Regions from separate parts of the Homo sapiens genome. Here region 2 is linked to region 1. Evidence: fine-mapped expression QTL. Tissue or cell type: whole blood. Region 1 holds a variant in brackets; the other region holds the start of a gene. All regions are shown on one strand. Distances are from middle to middle.

The links. PIP is the estimated chance that this variant, and not a neighbour inherited with it, causes the effect.
Region 2: it holds the start of LINC02693, and the variant in region 1 is fine-mapped to the expression of LINC02693 in whole blood (TOPMed, PIP 0.98).

The regions. Positions count from the first base shown.
Region 1 is chr17:21,354,519-21,362,622 of GRCh38, reverse strand. No RefSeq gene overlaps it. Among named protein-coding and RNA genes, the nearest start is that of KCNJ12, 18 kb to the left of the region's middle. RefSeq lists enhancers at 2,448-3,158, 4,222-4,792, 4,793-5,363. The variant G/A (reference allele first, on the strand shown) is at 4,375.
Region 2 is chr17:21,547,578-21,555,681 of GRCh38, reverse strand. LINC02693 (long intergenic non-protein coding RNA 2693) reads left to right here and starts at 4,004. Exons shown (of 2, transcript NR_160801.1): 1 at 4,004-4,686. RefSeq lists a silencer at 3,941-4,110.

The sequences.
Region 1 (8,104 bases):
ACTCATCCATCTATCCATCCATTCATCCATCCACTGATTCATCTGTCCTCTCACCTTTCATCCATCCATTCACTCATACATACATCCATTCATCCATCCATCCATCCATCCATTTATCCATCCATCATCCATCCATCCATGCATCTTTTCATGCATTTGTCCACTCATCCATCCATCTTCTCCTTTATCTGTCCACTAATCTATCCATCCACTCATTCATCTATTCACCCATTCATCCATCCACTCATTTATTCATTCATCCATCATCCATCCATCCATTCATCCATTCATTCACCTATTGATCCATCCACCCATTTCTCCATCACCCACTTATCCATTTATCCACTCATCCATCCATCCATCTCTTTATTCATCTATCTACTCATGTACCTCTCCACTCATCCATCTGTCTGCTCATCCATCTGCCTATAAGTTTCCTTTCTTCGTCATTTACAGCATGGGCTTTCTCACTCATCTCTCACTTCCAGAGACTTTTCTAGCATCTGATCCCAACCCTTCTAGTACAGCTCCCCTCTCTGCCCCCCACTGCTGACACAGTCAAACTAAATGTCAAACTTAGCTGGATATTCACCTTCTACACTGGACCCAGAAGAGGCCTCAAGGCTCACATGGTAGAAGAAGAAAGAGGAGGGAGTAGGGCAGCCATCCACCCCTCAGCCCTTACTCTCCACTCCAGGCTAGCAACCTTGGAGTAGGCAGCCTGCCCTGCAGGTAATTAATCAATAAGTCAATCACTGAAGTGATATTTGTTAGGCACTCACTGGATGCCAGGCACTGTGCCCACTACTGGGGACAAGACAGTGAACAAAACAGAATCCCCACCCTTGTGCAGGTGGAGTTCTAGTTCATGAGAGAGAGAACAAACAAGCTGAGTGAGGAATTAGAGCATAATGTGTTATGGAGAAAAACAGGGGGAGGGGTTGCACTGTTAAGTTGAACCAGTTGTTTCACTGAGAAAGACCTGAAGGAGGTAGGGAGGAGCATGGGGGAACAGCACCAGGTAGAGGAAACAGCATGTGCGAAGGCCCTGAGATGGGACTGGTGTGGGGAGCTCCAGGGAAAGCCTATGTGGCTGAACAGAGGGAGCGGGGGCCAGGGGGGTGGGAGCTAGGGTGGGGTTCGGGGGGCCTCAAGGCCTTGGGGAGCCATTGCTTTTGTTTCTGGAGAGAGTGGATCCATGGGAAAGTTTGACAGAAGGGTGACCTGAGCCGATTTGGGTGTCAAAAGGCAGAGGAGAGGCCTCTGGAGCCCCCTTGGCTCCCCTGCAAGCCCTCAGGGTAGCTGGTGCTGCACTTGCACTTTTGGATGGTTCCTGGAACATGTCTGCCTCTCCCAACAACTGGAGGTGCCTAAGGCCAGAGACTGTGTCTGCATCCCCAGCACTCAGCAGGGGCTTGGCTATGAAAGGCAATGGGAAACATTTGCTGAGATGAAGGTGGGGGAGGAACAGATGATAAGAACAAGAGAATCAGTGAGCAAAGAAAAGAATGGCTAGTGAGTGACTGAGGTCACAGGCCGGGGGCTCCCTCCTTATCCTCTTCCCAGGCCTCTGGGAGCCCCACTCTCCAGCTTGTTAAATTGTATAATGCTCCCCACCCAGAGCTCTGAGGCCCCGACAGCCTCAAGCTGCAGCCCCCAGCCTCTACGGGCCTCGGGTGACAGCGCTGGAGACCTCCGCTCCTGCTGGAGGTCAGGAAGTCCTTCCATCCACTCCAGCAGCTGCATCTAGATACCTGGTCCCTAAGGCTGGGGAGGGCAGTGGGAAGGACTCCAAGGGGCCCCCAACCCTGTCTAGAGACACTGAGCTGCTGCCCCTGCCACCCCCGCAATGCCATTACAGCCACTCTCAGGAACTGCTGAGCCTCAGTAATGAGAGCTTCTCCCTCCCTGGAGGCCTCATCTTGGCCTGGGGACCAGGAAGACAATCATCATTAGAGTCTCCATTTCACAGATGGGGAAGTGGAGGACCCTGGGGCCAGTTCCCAAGCCCCTTTCAGCAATGCTTCTCTGTCCACTTCCCATTTCCCAGCCACTGTTTCATTCCTATCTGTAGCAGTGAAGACAAAAATCATGTTTTCAAAAGTTAGTTTGAAATTTAACCTTTTCAATGTGAAATAGAAACACTAATGTCCTGTTCTGCTTTGCCTCAGCTCAGGGTCACTATGTTGGGGGGCTGAGCTCTCCCCAAAGCACCTAGGGGAAAGAGTCTGATCTCTACCCCACTGCTGTGGAAACCTTCATTTCAGAATTCCTCAAGTTTAGCCCAGCCTCCGTTAACGAGATGCGCTGACCAAGTGGCCTGGCAGGAGCTGATTTACGCAGGGACCGTGCTGGGGACTCCCTGCTGGGGTGAGGTTAAACACAAGGGCTTTGCTAAAGAGGAAGAAGCAGTTGAACCAGGCCACGAAGGAAGAGACAGAAGGCTTTTCAGCCCTGAACAGAGACAAGGTGGTGGCAAAGCATAGGCAAAGGCCTGGAGGCAGGAATCTGGCTGGATGAGCATGGGGCAGGGTCATCATGGGGCAGCAGGCAGGTCACAGAAGTTCCCCCGGTGAGCTGGGGCGTCATCAGGAGGGCTGTGGGGAACTGTGGCAGGGTGGTCAGCTGGGTCCTGGCCCCGATGGAGCTGAGTGTGGGTCCTTCCTTCCCAGCACAGCCCTCTCCCTGTGCTCAGCATGATGCTCACAACCAGTCCCCTTTCTACTCAGCAAAGAGAAAGGTCTTGAAGCTTAGTGGAAATTCCCCAAGGTCTCCCCTTCCTGGAGGGCCTGTTGAGGCTCCAGCATCCTCCTGCCCAGCAAAACCTGAAGTTCTCTCACTGGTGGCTCATTGTGGGAGCGACTTGGTGGGCGGGGGCACCACAAGAGGCTTGAGGGGCAGAAGGCAGCACAAGTGAGGGGCCCACTGCTCAAAATCAGGAGAAAGAGCCCGTCCCACCCTGCCACAGTCCCGCTTCAGCACCATACACCTGTGGGCACATGCACGTGCACACATGCACACACACACATATGCACACACATACACACACACATGCAGGCGCACACTTCAGCTTCGAAAATGTCTGTGGCTCTCCCTGCACACCGCAGGCTCATTATAAAATAATTGAGCGCTTGTAACACTGTTTTTCTCCTTGAGGATCCCAATTAAGACATCACTTCATGCTCTTCCTGCCCTGAAAGCCATCTCTAATTCCCCTCCCCTCGCACGCAGGGCAGGCAGCGCTAAAAATACTGTTCCAGGCACACTCTCTTTCTGCCACGCCTTCCCCCTTCCCACGCTGACCCCACCCAGAGGTCAGGCGCCCCTGGGGAAGGAGGACCCTATCCCTCCCTTAGTGACCTGGAACAAGTGACTTCATCTAGGAAATGGGGAGAAGAATGGCATCTGTCTCATCAGGTCCTCATGAGGAACAAATAGTACATGTGTGAAGCACTTAGCACGAGTCAGGCTGGATCCAGCCCTTCACAGCCTGGAATGTTTTCCGGGTGAGATAGCTGGCTTTAGGGTGTGGCTCAGCCCAGATTGTGCGGTCCCCACTGAGCTTCCCGCCAGCCTCAAATGTCAGGGCTAAGAGCTCCTAATTCTAATTCTAATGCTGAGAGTCTGATTCTGAGGTTCACAAGATTCTGACTCCTGGCTGCTCAGACCTCAGCAGATGCAAGTCCCTCCTTTGCTACCTCCACCAGGTCGGAGCCCCCATGGTTGCTCACCAGGACTCAGGCAGTGGCCACCCCCTGCAGGCCTCCCTGCTGCCCCTGTGAGCCCCATGCACAGCCAAGGAAGTTCTGGGAGACTGGAATCAGACCTGAGCCCTCAAGGCTTGGCATAGCAGTGAGAATCTATGACCTCCCTCTGCCACCTCCCACCTCCCTCCCCCTCCCCCAGCCTCCAGGGCTTGCTAGCTTCTGTCCCCATCTCGGGGACCCTTGCACTTGCTGTCCCACTGCCTGTGACCTTCAGTCCTTGCCCTCCACTTGGTAGGCTCCTTCTCACCACCCAGGCTCAGCTCAAAGGTCTCCTGTAAGAGGCCTCCCCAAACCCTCAGACTACAACAGCCACCCCATGCCTGTCTCATGATGCCTGCTTCATCTCCTGCACAGCCCTTTCCTTCCAGAAATCGTCCCACTGATTGTTTTCTGTGTTTACTGTCCTCTCCTCTACTGGAGTGTCTCTTGCTGCTGTGCTCCAGGGCCTGGCATACAGTGAGCACTCACTGAATATCTGCTAGTGAATGAATGGATTATGTAACCAGGAGAGCCTAAGGTCTTGGCTCTCCCTCTCGAGGTCCAATACTTTGTTAGCTCAGCAAGCAAAAGTGTGTTGATTGATTGACTGAGGGGGCACAGCTCCTCC[G/A]TAAAAAGCAACTCACATACACTAGGGGAGTCAGAAATCAGCAATGCAACCCCTTCTTGGCAAAGACGACAGAGGCACCTGACTCGCTGGCCCCATGGCTTACACACCTCTCCACTAGCCATTACCACCTGCCTCAGAGATGGATGAAGCCCTTTCAGAGGGTCCAGCCACTTACACCTGCAGGGGTTCCCTTTCCTTTGTCCTCCCCAGCTCTGCAAGGGTCAGCTGCAGCCCTGCCCAGGCTGACCGGAACTTGACACGTTGACCTCGGAGGGGGCCTCTGAGGCCTGCAGGGGTTGGTGAAGGGGCAGAAGCTCTGCCGTGAAGGGCAGGTCCTGAATGGAGCCAGAGTGGGGACTGGGAAGGAGGGGCAGGGCTAATGGGCTGCTAATGGCCCTGCAGCTGGGCTCTGGTGACCCCTGGCTCCCTAGGGGCCAGAAACAGTGCTAATGGGGCTGCCCCTCCCACAGCAGGCCCTTCCCTTCTGTTCCAGATCGGCTAGGCTGTTAAGGGGTAAGTGGCAGGAGAGAGGGAAGAGTGATCAGCCCCCTCCATTATCCCCACCACCTTGGCCCTCAAGGCAGCTCAGTGAGCCCAGAAACCAGCCTAGAATGTGGGGGAGGACATCGGCACTCCATCCCCTCATTACAGGCGGGGAGCTGAGGCTGGTGCATTAATCTGGTCCTGTTCACCTTTTCCCCTCTTGTTCCCAAGTTCATGGTTCACTTCTCCTCTCTGGACTCAAGCCCATAGGCACAGGCCGCAGCTGGCAGGGAAAGCCAGGGAGGGCACAGTAGGCACAGTGCCCAGGGCCCACACAACTTCCAGGATCCGTGGTGGGAGCAGTGAGAGGAGAGACAAAATAGTTTCAGGGCCTTGAAAGCCAGCTAAGTCTGAAGTTTGGATTTGTATCTGTGAGCAATGGGAAGTGAAGAGAGGGCTTATGATGGGAAGGTCGGGATCAGATGCTAGAGAAATCTCCAGAGAAAAGAGATGACTGCAGAGGCTGATATAGTAAATAATGGAGAATGGAAACAGAGGGAATATGAGTAGATGGATGAGTGGGCAGACGGGTGAGTATATTTACAGGGAAACAGACAATTGAATGGGGTGAGCAGGAGTGCTAAGAGGGATGTAAAGATGGATGGATGGATGAGTGGATGGGTGGGTGTATAGATAGATGGATGAATTGATGGATGAATGGATGGGTGGGGGATTGGTGAGAAGGTGCATGGTTGAGTGGATGGGTAGATGAATGGTGGGTGGATGAATGAATGGATAGATAGATGAATGGATAAGTGGATGGGTGGGTGGGTAAGATGGATGGATGTGTGAGTGAGTGGACAGATAGATGAATGGGTGAATGGATGGGTGGGTGGGTAGATGGATAAATTGATGGATGAATAAATGAGTGGGTGAATGGATGGATTGGTGAATTGGTGAAAGGGTGGGTGGATGAATGAATGGGTGGATGCATGGGTGGGTAAGTGGCTGGATGAATGGATGAATGGATGGATGAATGGATGGATGGATGAATGGATGAATGGATGGATGGATGGATGAATGGAGGGATGGATGGATGGATAAGTGGGTGAGTGGGTAAATGAATAAATGGAACGTAGCTGAATAGATGGATGGATGGATGGATGGGTGGGTGGTTGGCGAGGTGAGTGAATGGAGTCAAAGGGATAGATAGATGGGCAGGGCATGAATGGGTGAGTGGATGACTAACGGAAAGATGGACAGGGGATGAATGGGTGAGTGGATGACTAACGAATTATATTTCTCTCTATTCCAGTGAAGACGTAGAATATATTTTTAGTGTTTTTGTTTTGTTTTGTTTTGTTGTGTTTTGTTTGAGATGGAGTCTCACTCTGCCGCCCAGGCTGGAGTGCAGTGGCGCAATCTCAGCTCACTGCAAGCTCCGCCCCCTGGGTTCACACCATTCTCCTGCCTCAGCCTCCCGAGTAGCTGGGACTACAGGTGCCCGCCACCACGCCCGGCTAATTTTTTGTATTTAGTGTTTTTATTTTTTATGGATAAATGGACTCATTTAGGCCAAAGTGCCCTGGGTGCTTGAAAGTCATAATGTGGCCCTGGGGAAGGCCTAGCTGCCCTCACCTGATGGCTGGTTAAGGCCCTTTGTTCTCCTCCCTCCCTCCAGCCTTCCTCAGCCTCCAGGAGGTCTCAATTTCCCCACCTCCAGGCTTTTGCCCAGGCTGTTTCTTCTGCCTTGGATACTCTTGTCAAAACTCTTCTCCCCCAGGAAGCCCTCTGGAGCTGGCTTAGGGTCTGGTCTGGATTCCCGCAGATGCTTGGTCTTCTGTTTGAAACAGCCTCTACCCAGACTGTGAGCCCGGGGAGCGGGAGACGTGGGTGGGCAGGGGTGTGGGGGAGGTGGCAGTGGTGGGGAGCCATCATCTCTCCACACAGGCAGGAGCCCTGAGAAAAGGAAAGGACGGCCTGTTACGGCCGTTTCCCAGATCCCGTCCACGTGTCAGGTCCCTCATTACCGCCTCTCACCATCCCGCTTTCCAGATGAGGACCAGCCCCAGGTCAGTAAATGGCTAGACCCTTATTCAGCAAGAGTGGCCTGAGGCTCTGGAGGGGTGGGAGGGGCCGAGGGGAAAGGCTCCTGGAGATGGAGCCCAGGACCCAGCAGCAGCAACAGGAATAATAAGGCTATTACCATAAGGGAAGTGCAGCAGCCATTGCAGCTCGTCCCTTCCCTGCTCTGTGACCTTGGAGCACAATCTTAACTTTCCTGAGCCTCAATTTTGTCATCTGAAAAATAAGGTCAGTTATCACCCAACCAGGGGTCAAGAGGGATAATAGTGAAGGACATGCAGGTCCTCGTGGCAACATCCATGACTGCGGTTGTCATGCCTCCCAAGCTGGCTTCTTGGCTCCCCTCAAATCCTGCCGGCAAGGTCAGTCTCACCACATGCCTCACAGTGGCCTCAGGTAGGCACAGGGCCTGGAAGTGGGACCTGTCTGTGGTGGGCGCAAGCACCGGCATTGGTGATGGGGGTTGAGGGTGGTGGGAATTGACAGCTGGGCCGGCTGGGGAAGGGAAAGAACTGGGAAACCAGGCCAGACACTGCAGCATTAACGCAAGGGCAACAGGACACGGCCATAACTTCACCAAATGCCCGCGAGGGGCCCTGGGCTCGGCTTGGGGGTGGGAATCCACTGTGAGAAGAGGAACCACAGTCTCGCTGGAGGTGTTGGAGGCAGGGCTGGAAAGATGGGAGCCAACTTCCATTCATTCATTCATTCATTCATTCATTCCTTTGCTGAACACCTGCTCTGGGCCAGTCCCCGATCTGGGCATTGGAGACATAACAGGGCACAAAAGAGACAAAAGCCCCTGTTCTTGTGCAGCTGATCTTCTTGTGCAGGAGACAGACAACAAAAATGGAGATGCGTAAACTTCAGAGGAGGCAGTTTCAGGCAGAGGTCAAGGTATGAAGGTCAGGGTAGCAGGGTGGCGAATGAGGCGTGAGCGGCTACTTAGCCAGGGAGGTCAGTGAGGGCCTCTCCAAAGAGGGATGTTTGACAGGAGACGTGAAAACTGGTGCAGAGATGGAAAAAGAGTGTTCCATTCTGAGTGGGGGTGGTCAGCAGGCACAAGGCTTGGAGGCAGGACAGAGCATGGCCACTCACACAGAGAGCCCAGAGAAACAGAGCGCTGGCCCCGAGTCAGGGAGAGGCTAAGCCAGATCACGGG
Region 2 (8,104 bases), 190 kb before region 1:
TTCACTTGGGATAATGGTCTCCAATTCCATCCAGGTTGTTGCAAATGCCATTATTTCGTTCCTTTTTATGGCTAAGTAGTATTCCATGGTATGTATGCGTGTGTGTGTGTATATATATATACACACACACACACACATATATATACACACATACATACATATACACACATACATACATATACACATATATGCCACATTTTCTTTATTCACTCGTTGATCGATGAGCATTTGGGCTGGTTCCTTATTTTTGCAATTGTGAATGATGCTGCTATAAACATGCATGTGCAAGTATCTTTTTCATGTAATGATTTATTTTCCTCTGGGTAGATAACCAGAAGTGGGATTGCTGGATCAAGTGGTAGATCTACTTTTAGTTCTTTAAGGAATCGCCACACTGTTTTCCATAGTGGTTGTATTAGTTTACATTCCCACCAACAGTGTAAAAGTGTTCCCTTCTCACCACATCCACACCAACATCTATTTTAATTTTTTGATTCTTTTATTATGGTCATTCTTGCAGGATTAAGGTGGTATCGTGTTGTGGTTTTGATTTGCATTTCTCTGATAATTAGTGAAGTTGAGCATTTTTTTCATATGTTTGTTGGCCATTAGTATATCTTCTTTTGAGAATTGTCTATTCATGTCCTTAGTCCACTTTTTGATGAGATTGTTTGTGTTATCCTGAACAGCTACAATTCTTTGGCTTGTTATTTTAGTGGTTGCTTTAGTGTTTATAGTGCATGTCTTCAACTGATCACAGTCTACCTTCAAGTGATAATATATCATTTTAGTATAAGAAACTTACATCAGTATACTTCTTCCCTCCTAGTCTTTAAGCTATGACTGTCATCCATTTTATTTTACATGTTGTAAATTCCATAGTACTTTATTATTTTTGTTTAAACAATTATATTTTAAAGAGGCTTAAGTAATAATAACAAATCATATATTTGTCCATGTTGTTACTATTTCCAGTGTTCTTCATTCCTTTGTGCAGATCTAGATTTCAATATGGTATCCTTCTTAAGGCCTAAAAGACATCCTTTAATTTTTCTTGTGGTGCAGGTCTCCAGGTAAGAAAGTCTTAAGTCTTTACAAGTCTAAAAATGTCTTTATTTCTTCATATCCATTATTCTCTTTTTGGTAGTATCTAGTTGGCTGTGACACTAATCCATTAAACTTTCCATTTCAATTATGGTATTTTTCAAATCTAGATTTCTATTTGGTAATTTTTCCCAATCTACTTGGTTATTTTCATACTCATGCTCTTTAATCCCCTTGTTTCTTTACATGTAAGACACACTTTATGTGATGTTTGGTGACTCTAATATCTTAAGTCTCTGTAGGTTTTCTCCTCTGTACATTGTTTCTGCTGGCTCTTGCCCATTATAAATGTTTGTGATTTTTGATTAAAAACTTACATTCCATGAAGCTGTCTTCCATTTTGCTTTTGCCAGGCACCTGGAAGGCATTAAAAACCTGATGTCACTTTAAATTTGCAGCTTGAGACTTTTTAGATTATACAGTTTGTGTGTGAAGCCACCAGTGGAAGGGCTGCCCATGGTTATATATTAATGTATCCTCACTCTCAGGAGGGATGTTTTCCCTCAGGATGGATAATCTTGTCTGCTGCTCCAGGGGCTGCAGGGATTGAGGGGGCAGGAGACAGGGGAGGCAGACAGGTTGATTCATAGTTCCCTCCTACACTAAACCTATCTTTTTGGTGTCCTACTTTTTTTTTTTTTTTTTTTTTTTTTTTTTTTGAGACAGAGTCTGGCTCTGTCGCCCAGGCTGGAGTGCAGTGGCGCAATCTCGGCTCACTGCAACCTCCACCTCCCGGGTTCACGCCATTCTCCTGCCTCAGCCTCCCGAGTAGCTGGGACTACAGGCGCCCGCCACTACGCCCGGCTAATTGTTGTATTTTTAGTAGAGATGGGGTTTCACCGTGTTAGCCAGGGTAGTCTCGATCTCCTGAATTCGTGATCCGCCCGCCTCAGCCTCCCAAAGTGCTGCGATTACAGGCTTGAGCCACCGCGCCCGGCTGGTGTCCTACTTTTGATGTCTTCTGCTAACCGTCCTACCTTGGACAGGATCTAAACTTTGTCTGCTATTCTGCTGCCCCATCCTCTTCCCAGACTATGAAAAGAGAGTTTCAGTATGACACTTGGCAACTATCTTAAGGGTGAAAAATGGCATCTAATTACTTCTTTGGGTTTCTACTTTCACTTTTTAATTTTAATTTTTTTGCCTTTGCGAACTCTTAATTATTTTGCAGCTCATTGATACATTTTTTAAAATGGTTCTTGATATGTATTCCAGAAGTTTTTGTTGTTTTCTGGTTCTTGTCAGCCCATGTTGCCGGAAATAAAATTCTTTCAACTTGTTCTTTAACAATTTACAGTATCCATATATTCCTTCCTGTTCTAGAGGCAATAGAGTGAGAACACACACTTAGGAGCCAAGCTGGCCTGAGATTAAGATCCACCAGCAATGTGACCTCAGTAGCCTATTTACATTCTGAGTCTCATAGGGTTGGTGTGATAATTAAATGAGGTAATATATGAACAACACTTAAAACAGAGACTGACACTGGTAAGGATGGACTTTCTTGTTATTACTATCTGAAAAAGTTGAAAAATTATGAGCCTGAGTAACAGTTATACATCTTACCCAATGGTTCACTAACCTCTGGTCCCTGGCTACCCCGGCCCCCTCTACCATGCAGTCACCCACACCCATGCTTATACTGATGGAGAGGAGTCAACTATGAGCTATTCACTGGATGACAAGCCCAGCTACTGTCACAGGTGCACCCCAAGTCCAGGACAGAATGCTAGCAGATAGCTGCTGGTCTGAGAAATGTCATCATCATATAAGCCTGAGTGAAAACACAGCCCCTTTACTACTAAGAAATCTGAAAACAAACAAACATAAACAAACATAATTTTAAATTTTGTATTTTTTATGATGTCATTTGTCCCAACAGCCATCTGACATCAATAGCCCTGATTACTAAAAGTCTCAACGTTATAGAAATGTTCTCCTCCTTTTTGAAAACCATGTTCATTTTTCCCCCACGATACAGCGCTATCTGCAAAGCCTTGAACTGATAACATAGCTCAGGGGCTAACTCTTGTCTTAGCAGAGTAGCAGCTGAAAAAAGAAGACAATTCTTAACAAACAGGGAGATCAGGAATGCTCACTTCTAAAAACATTATTTATTCAGGGCAAGTGGTATTTGTGACGTGCGAATGAAGCTTAAACTTCAGCTTTAATTTATAAGAATTAGGAAATGCAGATTAAATCTCTGATGCCATATTGTGAATTCAGTAAAGGTTAACTAATCTACGACGCAAAGACAAACGTTAGCTATCCTACGCTTATTATTCTGGAAATTTAATGAAAATTAAACAAGAAGACTCACAGAGTATAAGAATTGTCCCCCCGCCTTAACAGTGTTGTTTTCAGCCTCTGTTGCCTGAAACATTGCAGAATAATTCAGATTTTTTTAACCCCACCTTTTTATTGAGTAAAACCAAAGTACTAAACTAATAAATGTGAAAAAGGATGTTGGGTTTAAAAAGAAAAAGCCTCAAGACATCGAGCCTCTTAGATATTTTAAAAGTGAAGACTGAGAAGGAACGCACTGTTGCTAAACAGAATTATAGGATTATGGTCAATTTATAATCTTTTCAATATGGGATTTGAATGTTCTGATATTAGATACCGTGTACGTGCTTTATTTATATAGTACCTCCCGAGAAGAAAAAAACCAGTATTGGTTTATACAGTATTTGGCATGCTATTCACGTATGCAGTGATGTATACGATGTCAGAGCTAGAAAATAGCTTAGATACGATTTGGATTCAGCGCTGGGCGGCTCCGCCCCCGCCAAGCCCCGCCCCGTCCCCTCAACCCCGCCCGGCTCCGCCTCGTCCCCTCCGCCCCGCCCCGTCCCCTCCGCCCCGCCCCGTCTCCTCCGCCCCGCCCCGACCCCGGGGCATGCGCTGTGCGCCCGGCCGGCGTGGCTGGCTGTTTGAGGACTGCGCGCGGAGCTCCGTGGCGGGTGTCTGAAGTCGTGAGTTTACTGCTTGTAAGGAACATAGCGATCACTGGGAACCTGGAAGTAGAGACTCCTTTCTGCCATCCATCCGTCCCTCGGGCTGCTGCGAATCCCCCCGCCGGCCTCCAGGACCCCGGGCTGACTGAACGCCCGCACCGGTCCCGCCGCCCCAGGGCCCGCTACGCGCCCGGCATAATGGGAGAAAAATCACGACGGAAAGGCCCAGCCCCTCGCCATGCAGACGGGAAGCTTGGCCGCACGTGTGATCACCCTTACGCCCCTTGGAGTTTCACCCCCTCTTCGCGGGCTCCAACAGCCTGGGTCAGGCCTCCTTGTCCTGTGTGGGCCTCTCGGCTGCAAGAACACAGTCCCGAGCCCCGGCGAGCCCGCGCGCCTCCCACCCGCCGTGCACAGGCTGCACTTTACGCCCCAGCACTGCGCCTGCGGGACCATCTGGATCGCTTTTCCATTCTGATGACGTCCTGTACTTCGTGGCTGCAGGCTCCTCAAGCCCCAGGTCTGTGCAGAGACGAGCAAAGCAGCAGAATATCCGTGCCACAGCTTTCTGGAGCACCCATTTTACTACCAGATTTGGAAGGAACGAAGTTAAGTAATTTCCAAGGTAAGTAATTAAAATTTTACGATGAAAAGGCTAGAAACTCTTCTGCTGGTAATAACTGTCAGACATATCTGTGCCTGAAATGTCAGACTTTTTCTGAGAAAAAAACTGAAAACTTGTTTCCCATTATTTTAAATAGGAAAAATTATAGGGCACAACAAGTCAATAGAAAAAAACCTACCAATTTCCTAACTCACAGTGTGGCAGTAGGTTTAAGTTGCACATAAGTTAGGATGTAAAATGCTTAAATGTTGCCACTTGGTCACCCACATTTGATATGGTTGTTAACATGCATTTGCCTTGGATGCAGTAGCTGTGCGACCAGCAACATCACACGTGAACCTCCCCTTTGTCAACACACCAAAGCTTTTTGAAGTGACTGTCATGATCCTGATGGTCTACCAGTTGTTTCTGGAAGGAACATGTGGTTTTTTCCAGCAAACTATTTAGTTTAAAATGTTGTAATTTTTGAAAGCTCAAACATTATGTCTACAACCATCAGCCAAAAAATTTGAGACAGGTTCTTGCTCTTTTGCCCAAACTGCACCACGAAAGGGGTTCCAGCGATCCACCTGCTTCAGCCTCCCCAGTAGCTGAGACCACAGGTTTGTGCCACCATGCCTGTTAATTTCTAAATTTTTTGTAGAAACTACATCTCCCCACATTGCCCAGGCTGGCCTCGAACTTCTAGACTCAAGCAATTTTCCTGCCTTGGCCTCCCAAAGTGCTGGAATCACAGGCGTGAGTCACCAACCGCACTCAGCCTGAAAAATGTTTTGTGAGATAAATAGCTGCTATACAGTTTAGATATTAAAAACTAAGATGTGTTCTTCCAGGAAAGTTATACTTTCAGATATATTCTGTGTCACATCCTGTATGATGAAATAGATGGCAAAAAAAAAAAAAATCCCATTTAATTTAAAGATGGAAGCTGTAACTTCAAGTAAATTTGGAGCTGAGGAGTCCTTTCGGGCTATGACCCCAGAATTCTGGGGTTCTCTGTACTGATTTTTTGCTAGTGTCCACACACAAGCATTCCTTAATGCTGTGCATTAAACAAATAGACCTTTTTTAACCCCAGGTTTCTCTCCATTTACCATTCTGTTTCTCTGCTCCATGCAACTTCCTCACCTCATGTCCTCTCTTGCACCCACTCCTTTCCAGCTTTCCTCCAAGGTACTTTGCTGAAACGACTTTTATCTCAGTCATTTAGCTGCATTTGACACAGACGATACAATTGAGGAGTTCCACCCTTTCTTCTGGATTTTAGGGACCTTCCCTCCTGGATTCCCTCTCACCTTTATCCTCATCCTCCTGCTCCTCCTCCACCAGATCTCTAGTGATCCTCTCAGAATGATCCCACACAGTCTCATAGCTTTAAATACCATCCATCTGTTGATAACCACTAGGCTTGGGGCCTCTTCCCTGAGGGGAGCACCAAGAGTCATCCCTGACTCTTTTCCCTTCTCCCCCAACCCCCATGCAACCACACAGCAAGTCCTGTGGCTCTTGAGTGCAACCAGCATCCTGATTCACCATCTCCATTTCCACAACCAGTTTCAGTCACCTTCCTCTCCTACTGGGCTACTGCCAAGAATCCTCCAACCTCCCTGCATCTTGTCTTGCCCTGCTACAGTCCAGCCTCCACTCAAGCATCCAGAGTGATCTCTTGAAAATGTTAAAACATGATATAGGCATACCCCCACCCCTGTGTAAACCCTGCCACTATCTACTCATTGCAGTAGAATAAAAGCTCAGACAACCTGGTGCCTGCCTCTTCAGCCTCATCTCCTGCCCTTGCTTGTTCTTGCTATGTGGGTCAGATTTTCTGGTCTCCAGAGCTGAAAACAATCTTAACTGACAGACGTTAGATCATAGACTTTATCTACAGCATAAGGCATGGAAGGAAAAGTCTGAGAGAATGAAGGGCCAGAAAAGCTTGTTTAAAAAAAAAATAAAAAGCACAGGAAACTGGAAACGTAACTAACCTGTATGTATATACTTAAAAGAACATGGTAACAAAATGAACTCTTTAGAAACTGAGCCAACAGACTTGCAAACAAATAGAAATACCTTTGGTCCTACTCTGAAAACAAGAAGAATCCTTAGTGAGTATACAAGAACAAAAATTGTACACATTTCTGGGTCATAATGCAATAAAACTAGAAATAATCAAAAGAGAATTTAAAGATGTTCAGCTTCCTGAAAATGTTAAATTATCCTTTTAAACAAATTAATGCCTGCATCAGGGTGCAAATCCAAAACACAAATACCTTGCCTATAAAAATATATTTTTGCAAACAACAGTGTATCGGGATGTGAGGAGAGAGCTCACTGACTCAAAAGCTCCCAGAGTGACCAGATGTGTTCATGGGAACCGGAGCACTGCCCTGGAGTCATTTGACATCACCTTATTACAAGTAGGAACAGCCATGCTGGGAGATGCTCAGATGCCAGTAATAAGTCAGAGGATTCCCTCCTGAATGGGACCTCCCAGTCCTCTTTGGCACAGGGTTCCAGGCAGTGACCACAAATCCATCGGTGATGGCTTACAAGATCAACCTGCCCTCAGGCAGTGGAGTGGAAACTGGCACTAGCAGCTACAGTGGAAAAAATGAATGGCCTCTAAGAATATGTCATCTGCCCCATGCAAAGATTCTGGATCCCAGAAGTCCTCCTAGTAAGGACTCGGAGCCAGACAACTTCATTTCCTGTCACCTGGGCTGCTCTCCCTCTGACAGCTATGGAAATTGGTGAAGCACAGGAACGTATTGGAAATGGCAATGATGTGCCATGCCAATGTGTGGAAGTGTACAAGTTAAGTAATATTTTAAAAACAGAACACACAACAGTTTGCACAATCCGACCAAAGCTCTGTCATGTATGTTTCTAAACAAGTTTGGAAGAGAATTTGGAAATGGCTGAAATTTTTTTATAAAGCTTATGTTTTTAGTTTGTTTAAATGTAAAAGCATACACTTAGAAACAAGTTAGTATGTAAAAATTTTTAATCTTAGCTATCTGGAAGCTTCAAATACTTAGAATGAGGCATTTCCCAAAGGTATCTGTAACTTGAATTTTACCGTAGTTTGAAAACTCTTGCCCAGCATAATGGCTTACAGCGGTAATCCCAGCACTTTGGGAGGTTAAGGTGGGCAGATCACTTGAGCTAGGAGTTAGAGACCAGCCTGGGCAACATGGTGAAACCCCATCTCTACAAAAAATTTAAAAATTAGCTGGGAGTGGTGGCACTGCTGATAGACACAGCTACTCAGGAGGCTGAGGTGGGAGGATCCTTGAGCCCGGGAGGTCTAGGCTGCAGTGAGCCGTGATCGCACCAGTGTACTTCAGCCTGGGCAACAGTGCCAGACCCCGCCCCCTCCCCTAGAAGAAAGAAAACTATTAGTTCATAGTGCAGTTGA